Linked DNA regions of Homo sapiens: region 1 is linked to region 2. A link means that fine-mapping ties the variant in region 2 to the expression of a gene that starts in the linked region. Tissue or cell type: macrophages. Region 2 holds a variant in brackets; the other region holds the start of a gene. All regions are shown on one strand. Distances are between the middles of the regions.

Region 1 (5,392 bases), 20 kb before region 2:
GAATCTAGACTCAACTGGATTCCAAGCTCAGCTATGCCATTACCTGCAGTGTAAATGTGGGCAGGTTAATTAGACTCCCTGAGCCTGGAATTCCTCCTTTGCTCCTGAGGATTGTGATATGGGTTGTTGGGAGGTTTAAGGAGATGATATAAAACATTTAACACAGAGCCTGGCATATGGCAACCACAGAAAAAGTGCCAGCAATCATATCCTTAAGAGTACTATTATTCCTATAGATGGTCCACCAGTTAACACATCCCCATGCCATACCTTTTAAAAATTAATACATGACTGTACTGTTCACTAAATTGGGTTCACAGAGCTAAAGATGTTTAGGTTGTTTCCATTTGAGCCATATTTATATCTTTGTTGTCCTTTCTCTATCTTAGTCATCCTGTCCTTACCTCTGGGTTGTTCACTTTTCATCTGTAAACTTCATTCTCTTGAATGGGTCCCTGTTGATTTTTTGGCAACCTTATCTTGTTTCCTGGAGAGATAGTTTTACGGTGATCCTACCCACACCAAGGTTGAACAATAACAGTGAATGTTTTTACAGAGCAGAAATGGGCTAGAATACAATGTATCTCAAACTTTTTGTGGCTGGGTAATCCAAACACCTGAGTTTTCCATGGAAGTGTAGCACTCCTTCCCGTGTTTATTAGTGAGAAAGGAGTGGCCCTCCAGGGCTCCAGCTACTTTCTTTACTACTTTTCAAGGTGACGTACACTCAATGCCCACTAATAAAACATTAGTGGCTTACTCTATTATGCATCTGTAGATTCTGCTAAATGAAAATATACATGAACTGGAGGACTTAATCGCCACACTATTGGGATACTGCCTATAGAATAATTGAAACTCTTGGGGGAGATTTCAATCACCATAATTAACTCAAGAAACCAACTTATTCTGAAGAATTCAGCCTCTAGCTTGCAACTTAGGTTAGGGTATACCCTGGCTTCCTCACTTCAGAAAATTCTAGAATGACAATATTTATTTACATTACGCTTTAGACTACATTACTCTGCATCAAAACATTTTCATTTTATTCACCTGTATTAAAAATGCTCATTAACAAACTTAGACCCATTTGGGCTCTAGAAACTTTCAATAAAGTTCTCAGATTTTTCCCTTGAAAGAAAGGATTACAGATTCTTTTGAAGGAGCATCTTTTTCACACAGCGTGAAAGGACTACAGGCGTTCCCATGGGAATTGGCTGCATACATTTCAGCCCTTCCCACAAGATGTCTATTGTTCCCTGGATGTCTCTGGGCTTCCTTGGCTGTGGCGTGCTGCTACACTTCACTTCTACTGAAAGCCTCTGAGTCTGGCTTATTCTAAGCAATGCTAAAGGCTTCAGCCCTGTCTTTTTGCTAGAGTACATACGATCTAAGTTTGTAGCAGGCTTATTTCATAAGTACATGAAAAAAATAGATTTGGTGACCTATTTAGTCAAGAGCCCAAAAAACTACTTAATTTTGATTACCTATTTCAACTTATTAAAACACAAATAGGAAACATTTCCTTCAAAAAGGATGAGAAACACTTATCTTCAAGTCTAATAAACTTTCTAAAATCAAGGCTTTTGTGACTTGTCATAATTTTATAGTGTATTCATTTTCACCTGTAAATGTTGACTTTGTTGGTCATTTTTGCTCTGGAATAATACAAATCTTGCTGAAAAATCCTAATTCAAATTCGTGGGTTTGTTCTTCCAGAAAATGTACCAAAACTCTCAAACTACATGGAAAACTCAATGTTAAATGTATCTTCATTTACATTTAAGTTTCATGTACCAAATATCTATATGACCAACTCAAATATTTCTCTAAATATTTTTTTCTGCTTTTTAAATCAAAAATATATAAATGTCATTTAATCCAATGGTTGATTACTACAACAATTTAAGTGTGTATCTGAAAGAGTAAAAAAGTGGTTAGATTTAATTATGATTTGTAAGATATCTGAAACACCAAAGGAAAAAACGGCAGCAGCAACAAACAGTAATGGTGACCCTGTTCAACCCACTGACTGTAATGATGCTATAATATTTAATTTTCTTTGAAAATCCGTAGGCAGAGCCAGTTTCTTTGCTGGTTGCAAAATGTTGATTGAAGTAAACAAAAGTATAAAATAGAAATGAGACTAGATTATTACGGAGTAAAACAAAAATGCACATGATATGAATCTAGAAGCACAGCTTTCTGCTCCTGAGGCCTAGAGACATGTTTTAATAACCCACAGAGAAGTGGCATTTTTACTCTAATAACCGAAATGCCTGCATACATGGCTAGACACACAGCTCCCAAATGTGCTTTATCTGCATAATCAGCCAGCCCCTGGAAGTTTCTCAGCTCCATTCTCCTATCCCCCACTCTTTGCTTCTTTGCAGCCTCTGACATTTACTTTAATTAGCTTTTGTTTTTGCTGAACAAAAGGTCATGAAAGAAGATAGCCATACCTCTTTGCACAGGAATCTCTGGTCATAGAAAATAGAAGGCAAAATCCTTGATCTTTAGAGCACTGCAGCTGGGACCCATGACCATGCTCAGAGGCAGCCTTGCAGCTGCTGCCCAGTCCTGTGGGCTGCAGCCGCGTCTCCCTGAGCTGCCTGTCAAGCCAGTGGTACATTTCATTCCCTCCCCATTGACTCACCGTGCGGAATCAGGCAAATGAGTAACTTTTCTTCTCTCTCCCAAACTTCTGCTTAGACCTAACAATTGACGCAAAGCTTCACTTATTTCTACACTAGATTTACAGATTTCTCTGAGCAGATCTGTAGTTTGAAAGAATTAGATTTGCCTAACAACCAGTAATTTAGGTTCTGTTAATGAATAACTCACTTTAAGAAATCAAGGAAGTTTTAGGTTAATATCAGATGTGGGGCCTTTTAGCAGGCATCAGGAAAAAGGCTTGGGGAGGGAATGCAGGAAGGGAAGCACTGGAATGAAATGGTATTTAAGCCAAATATGATAGAAGAAAAATACCACAAGAGAAGCAAAATAGCTAGGGTAAAGGAGCAAAAGTCTAATTATACTATTGGTATTGCTTACGAAACACACAACAACTTAATGAAACTTCCCTGGTAGCACTAGAGATTTTTCTGAACCCTCATGGTTCCTTCTTGCATCCACTCAAATTTCTAACTCCTTCCTTTTACCATCCAAATATAGAACTCATCTTTTCAAACCTAATTCATTGGGGATCCCTCACAAGCACTCCCACATCGCCTCATCTCTCTCTCTCTTTTAAGGAGAATGCACTTTAAAACCTCTAATGCATAAATTAATTGGTGGTGCCCAGTGGATTATTATATCTAGAGGCTCTTCTCTCCCTTTAAGTGTATGGCATGGGCTTTCTTCCCTTATTGATCTGAGGTTTTGCCTTCACATAAAGTGATAAAACATTTCTGAGTCTCTCCCGACCGGAACTTTCAGTCAAACCATGTGAGGGTAACAGGGAGGGTGGGGGCGGGGGCTGCAGTGGGGAAAGTCAGGTGTAAGATGTACAAGTGGAAATAAAAATATTTCCATTCAGTGGCAATCATGCTGCATGTAAAAAAATTACTAGTCCAATTAAAAGGACTACTCATGGGGTGAAGATTACTTTCTCTTGTGTTTGACACTCAACATTCACTTACTCTACTTTTAGTCAAAACTGCACCCAAATTTCCCTTGGGAAACCATGTCCTTTGGGTACAGCTGATGCCCATAAACAGGATGGGCCTTAATTGGTCTTACCCAAATTAGAGTAATTGCATTCCTGTGATCATAGTGACTAATGCAGGGCAGGTGTGCGACCCCTTCTAGGCCAATGAGAGGACAATGATGAAAGCTCAGCTTTGGGAGTAAAAAGTCTAAGCTGCTGGACTTGATGATAAGAAGGTGTAAGGTCTGGCTGCTATTGCCCTCTTGCCACCAAGAAAACTGTTGACTTCATTTGGGCCCCTTAAACCACCTGCCCCTAATGCTAGCAAGACCTACCCTTCAGTGTACACTAATAAATTCCTTAATAGCTTAAGTGATTTTAGATTGGGTTTTCTGCCATTTACCATTAAAAAATTTCCACCTGACAGAATCAGCCTAACCTAGTTTTGTGGGAAGTCTCTCCTGGGTGCAGCTCATTGAAAATTAAGTGGACTAAGAGACTCAACAGGAACTATCTATGACAAATGGGCTCCTTCAGTGACAACCACAGGCTTCCTCTGACAACTAGCAGATGCAAGAAAGGCCTGGAAAGGAATGTAGTCATTCAGTGTACCTGAAAACAGGACCTTCTAAATTATTTTTTCCTAACCAGCTACATAGTCATTTCCTCAATACTTGAGTCCCCCAAAATAATTAAATTTAATCTCTTAGACTTGCCTGGCAGTACCTAGCCACATACCATTTGACCTCAATACCCTTGTCATGGAATCCATCCATTCATACACAATTTTCAAAAATTTCCTAAAATCACTTACGCTATTAAGGAATTTATCAGTGGACACTGAAGGGTGGAGCTTGCTAGCTTTAGGGGCAGCTGGTTGAAGAGGCCCAAATGAAGTCATCAGGTTTCTTGGTGGCAGAATGGCAACAGCAACCAGATATTACACCTGTTTGTCAAAAATGTATTTGAGTAATCAGTTTTACAGAGTATTGCTTTGTCTTTATTTTTCCCCTCTGTTCTTGTCTAACTCTCACTCCTTCCCCTCCTTTGGGAAACTTGAAATAAAACATTGTCTGTAACCACAAAATCAGACAAAGACGTTTTCTTTACAGAAAAGAGGTAAATTCTAAGGCAACTTACATAGGTGAGTTACATATAAACACTGAGAACTTCTGAATGATTTCATTTTCTATAAACAGTTTTTCTTACCTGTAATCATGAAAGCTCCTGTAAGCACACCATTTCTATGGTCAGCCTTCCAGCTTTGAAGAGTCCATTGCAGGCACAAAAACTCAGACACAGCCAGGAACTCCCTTTTGGCTCAGCAAAATAGCATGTGGCATGAACTATGACAGTCAAGTTTCTTTCTTTCTTTCTTTCTTTCTTTCTTTCTTTTTTTTTTTGAGAAGAAGTCTCGCCCTATTGCCCAGGCTGAAGTGCAGTGGTGCGATCTTGGCTCACTGCAACCTCTGCCTCCTGGGTTCAAGCAATTCTCCCACCTCAGCCTCCCTAGTAGCTGGAATTACAGGCGCACACCACCACACCCGGCTAATTTTTTTTTTTTTTTTTTTTTAGTTTGTTTGTATTTTAGTAGAGACAGGGTTTCGCCATGTTGGCCAGGCTGATCTCAAACTTCTGACCTCAAGTGATCCACCAGCCTCAGCCTCCCAAAGTGTTGGAATTACAGGCATGAGCCACTGCACCCGGCCAAGAGTCAAGTTTCTTTAAGAACAGGAATAGGGC
Region 2 (5,392 bases):
TTGTGAACTAGATGCAACCCCCATCCCTAATATGCTTCATTATTAAAGCAACACTTAATTAAGTGGCAGACAAAGCCAGAAACATGCTGTGGTTTAAGAAAGTCTCTTAGGTTATTTTCAGATGTTTCTTGTTTGGCAAGAGCCAGAGCACATTTTGTTGAGCACATTTTATTCCTATGTGTATTTTAAGGGAAATCTAACCCATGTGTTTTATTTCATTAATATTTTGCCAAGTTAAATGGTTCTTTTGTAAGATATATTTAATGTTGTTATTTTTATGAGACTTTTTCCCCTGGATTATGAATTCATATGTCACCTAAAATAAGTATACTTTGATCCAAATATCTTGTAGTTACAAAGTCAGAAACCCACAGAACTTGGGTGATTTTTCCAGCAGTGCCAAATACAATATTTTATGTGTACTACTAACATCATGTTTTTTTTCTCATATTTGTCAATCAGCACTTTATTGGAAAAACAAGAATTATCCACCTTTTAAAGTCCTGCTTTTTGATCAATATCCAGAGGAGACCATAGCCAAATTCAATATGAGCCACTGACTTCAGGTAGTGGGTGTAGATCTAAGTGTGTGATCTGTATAATGACTAAATCACAGCTATGCTGATTTAAGTGGATACATCAGAGGACTTGAATACTAACCCATAGCAGTGTCAAAAGTGACCAGGCCAGGCGCGGTGGCTCACGCCTGTAATCCCAGCACTTTGGGAGGCCGAGATGGGTGGATCATGAGGTCAGGAGTTCAAGACAAGCCTGGCCAAGATGATGAAACCCCATCTCTACTAAAAATACAAAAAAAAAAAAAAATCAGCCAGCATGGTGGCAGGCGTCTGTAATCCCAGCTACTTGGGAGGCCGAGGCAGAGAATTGCTTGAACGCAGGAGGCAGAGGTTGCAGTGGGCCGAGATTGCGCCATTGCACTCCAGCCTGGGTGACAGGGCATTCTCCGTCTCAAAATAAAAAAAAGTGACCAGTGACGATATGGACAAGAGGAACTTTCAATCAATACTAGTGGGAGTACAAATTAGTAAATTGCTTTAGAAAACAATTTAGATTATCTAATGAAGTTGCAGATGCACGTGTCATATAACCTAATAATTTCACTCCTTAGGAATAGTTCTGGAGAAACCTGTACATGAAAACCAGGACACATATACAAAAAACTTCACAGTGTCATAACAAAAAACTGAAAACAACTTAAATAACCATTAATAAGAAAATGAGTAAATAAGTTGTGATATTCATACAGTGAGATTATATAGAGCAATGAAAATGAATGAATTATAGACACATACATAATTATAGACACATTAACATGGATGAATCTCAAAAACAGGGTGCTGAATTAAAAAAACAAGTTATAGTAGAAAAATGCACTATGATTATATTTACATGAAGTTCAAAAATGTGTAAGAAAAGATGTTAATGTTTAAGAATATGTATAAATATATAACACTAGAAATAAAAACATGGAATGATATAAATAAAATTCAAGATAGTCATTATTTCTCATAGGATAATGGAATGTTGAGGAGCTAGAATACACGAAGAGCTTTAAGATTGCATTAATGTTCTATTTTCTAAAAGCTGCATGATATGTACGTAAGTTTTCTTTTTTTATCCTGTTTGTACTTAAGAAATATGTGGTGAATATTATTTTGTATTTATTCAACTTTTAAAACTTAATTGAAAATGCAGATTCAAGCATACAATCAACATACTGTATTATTTACCTGCAACCCCAATTCCCATGAAACCAAAGCAAAAGGTGCAGTCTGTCAGAGTTCAGTTATATGTTTAATGGTTCCTTTCCTGTTCTGACTTAAAAAAAAAAAATCCCTTTGGGTCTTTCTATGTCTTACATAGCTGGGCTATTTCTTGTATTTTCAAATTAGATTAAATACTATCAGGCAGCTTCTGTCATTCCATATAAGTAGTAGTGATTACTCTATCAGAAAAAAAATCTATAATAACATGGCATAGTAGTTAATGTTTGACAAGCAAGTCTCCATGGTGTACTATAGCTGTCAGTATAGCCATTAGTAACATGAAGACACAATGGGCTAAATTCTACAAGAGAATAGAGCTCTCCCTCCTTGAAAATAAGCACTGAACTCTTTCCAAACAAGGAATCTATTTATTGTGTAGAATCAATTATTTACAAACTGAGGGCAGCTAGCCTCTTTCTTCCCCTTTCTCTGCCTTTCTCCCCTCTGTTCCTCACTTACTTCCTTTTCCAACTTTATTATTGTTATTACTATTTTTCTTTCTTTCTTTCTTTCTTTTTTTAGAGTATCACTCTGTCACTCAGGCTGGAGGGCAGAGGTGCGATCTTGGCTCACTGCAACTTCCGTGCCCCAGGTTCAAGCAATTCTCCTGCCTCGGCCTCCCAAGTAGCTAGGATGACAGGCATGAGCCACCATGCCCAGCTAGTTCTTTTGTATTTGTAGTTTCACCATGTTGGCCTGGCTGGTCTCGAACTGACCTCAAGTGATCCACCCGCCTCGGCCTCCCAAAGTGCTGGGATTACAGGTGTGAGCCACCATGCCCGGCCCTTTTCCAACTCTATTAAATATCTATTTCGTGTCAGTTGCCAAATGTTTATGTATGCACTGGTGTCCCCAAAGAATTGCTGGAACTTCTGGCAGTGCATATCCTGCTGTCACAGCTCCTTTTTCGTTCTGGAAAAGAATGACCCTTTCTTTGGTTAATCAAGTGACACTTTCACAAATTTTGCCATATTTGTTACTTGCATAATTTCTTTTTTTAAAATTGTGAGTTCTACAACATATACAAATGAGCATATGTAATGTATATTTATATATAAAGAATAACATTATATATTATACATA[A/ATC]TATAGATTATGTATAATATATAATTTAAAGAATGATGACATTAACACTCATATACTCATGACTCAGGCTAAGGAATAGACACTAACTGCAATTAGAATGTATGCACTCCCCAATTTTTCCTCCTTCTTCTCATCTAGAAATAATGCACTGCTTGAATTGTATATCATCATTCTCTTGCTTTTTGCGTCATAGTTTTATAACCTATTTGTTTCTCTATTTTACATGTTTTGAGATATTAATATTAATGTGGTAATGTAGTACACATTCTTCTGTGACTCAATGTTTTTCATTCAACATTCCATTCTTGTGATTCATCCTATGATGCTGTGGATGATTTACTTTTTACAGTTGCATAGTATTCCACTGTATGTCTTTCTCTCATTTTATCCTTTCTTTTTTGATGGACATATGACTTGTTCCCAGCTATTGCAACTGCAAGAGTCAGCTTTGGACATCCTTATACATGTCTCCTAATGCAAACATGCAAGTGTTTCTCTTGGCAATGACATTGTTGGGTCATAGGATATGTGAATATCTCACTTTACTGAAAATGCTTATTTATTTTCCAAATAGCTGTACAGATTTACATTCTCATCTGCAGTGGGTGAGAGTTCTTTACATCATTATTAACAGTTAATAGTGCTTGTTTTCAAATTTGTCCTCATCAATGAATTTGGACATCTTTCAGTATTTATTTGCCATTCACATTTTCTTCTGTGAAGTGTTTATTCATATCTTTTGCCTATTTTTCCATTTGATTCTTGATCTTTCTCTTCTTGATGCATAAGTGCTCTTTGTATGTATTTTATGTGTTCTTTTTCCTGTATATGTATCTCAAATATGTCCTCCCAGTCTGTGGCTTAAAGTTTGATCTATTTATGATATTTTTAAATCTCCTTTGATGTATTTATTTTAACGTAGTCAAAATTATAAAATTTTTCTTTATGCTTTGTGCTTTTTTGTGTCTTATTTTAAAAATCCTTCTCTACATGATTATAAATATATTCTCCTTTGTTGTCTCCTAAAAGTTTTTAAAGTTTTGCATTTCACATTTAAGTCCTTAATCCACAAAGAATTGACAGTTGTTTGTGGTGGAATATAAGGATCTGTATTTAAAAAATTTTATTTTTGTATAATCAATTAGTAGAGTTCCATTTGTTTTAGGAGTGAATCCCTTCTCCAGTGAGCTGTACTGCCATCTTCACATATACCATTTTCTTCTAGGGAAGAGTCTGATTCTAGAATCTATAATATGTTTTGTTCTTTTAGAATATAGTCTATCCCTGCACCAATACCACATTGTTTCAATTACCATATTTGGTAGAGCACATTGCCTTATTTTTCCTTTCTCAAAATTATTCCAGTGATTCTTGGCCCTTAGCATTTCCATGTAAACTTCAGAATCAGATTGCAACTTCCATGTAAAACTCTATCTAAATTTAAATTAAATAGTACGGGTCAGGTGTGGCAGCTCACACCTGTAATACCATCACTTTGGGAGGCTGAGGTGGGCAGATGGCTTGAGCCCAGGACTTCAAGACCAGCCTGGGAATTATTGTGAAACCTCATCTCTACAAAAAAAATAGAAAAATTAGCCAGGTATGGGAGCATGCACCTGTAGTGGCAGCTACTCAGGAGGCTAAGGTGGGAGGATTGACTGACCCTGGGTTGAGACAGGGCTGCAGTGAGCTGTGATCATGTCACTGCCCTCCAGCCTGGGTGACAGAGTGAGACAGAAAAGGAAAGGGAAGGAAAGGGAAGGGAAAGGAAGGGAAGAAAGAAAGAAGGAGAGAAAGAGTATGAAATGTACAGATAATTTGGGAAGAATTAACATTTTTACATTAAATTTTCACATTCATAAGGTTGCCATAATTCCAAAATTATTTAGGTCTTCTTTGATGTTTTTCAATAAATTATTTTATTTCATATTTGGCTTTGTACATTTTTTTGCTAGGTACCTTATTTTTGTTACTATTGTCAATGGTGGGAATGCAAATTGATAAGACTGTTCTGGAAAACTATATGACAGTACTTTATGACACGGAAGAAGCACGTGCCTGTCCCTGGCAATGCCAGTCCCAGGTGTCTACCAAGGGAAGCTCTTGCCCGTGAACACCAGGAGATCCGTAAAAACAGCCTTATTCACATTCAAAAACAAAAAACAATCCACATGTCCATAAGCAGTATAGTGGATAAATTATTGTGATAGATTCACTGAAATAGCACGTAGGAATAAAATTAACTAAATCTATGCATATTAACTTGTATAAACATTAAAATCATAATGTTGAGTGAAAAGAGCAAATCACAGAAGAATCCATATAGAATGATCCTTTTCATATAAAATGCAAGGACAGAAAATATTATATTTAAGTATATTAGGCAATATGTTAGCAGCACAGGCATATGTGGTAAGATTATTAAAAAGACAAATAAAATTAGCATTAAACTCAATACAGGAGTTACGTGGAAATGCAAGGGAACAGAGTTGTTATTGGAGGGGCACATTGTCAGCTCTGAA

Direction of the effects. Positions count from the first base shown, and alleles are read on the strand shown. Sizes are in standard deviations (SD) of each study's normalised expression.
For the expression in macrophages of the gene that starts at base 2,602 in region 1, allele A in region 2 goes with a lower level than allele ATC (moderate effect, 0.64 SD a copy in Alasoo 2018).

What was found. PIP is the estimated chance that this variant, and not a neighbour inherited with it, causes the effect. A credible set is the group of variants that fine-mapping cannot tell apart.
Region 1: VEPH1 starts here. The variant in region 2 is the best candidate, but not a certain one, in a credible set for the expression of VEPH1 in macrophages (Alasoo 2018, PIP 0.53).

What each region holds. Positions count from the first base shown.
Region 1 is chr3:157,500,815-157,506,206 of GRCh38, forward strand. VEPH1 (ventricular zone expressed PH domain containing 1) reads right to left here and starts at 2,602. Exons shown (of 14, transcript NM_001167912.2): 1 at 2,463-2,602. RefSeq lists a silencer at 2,395-2,629.
Region 2 is chr3:157,520,819-157,526,210 of GRCh38, forward strand. No RefSeq gene overlaps it. Among named protein-coding and RNA genes, the nearest start is that of VEPH1, 20 kb to the left of the region's middle. The variant A/ATC (reference allele first, on the strand shown) is at 2,871.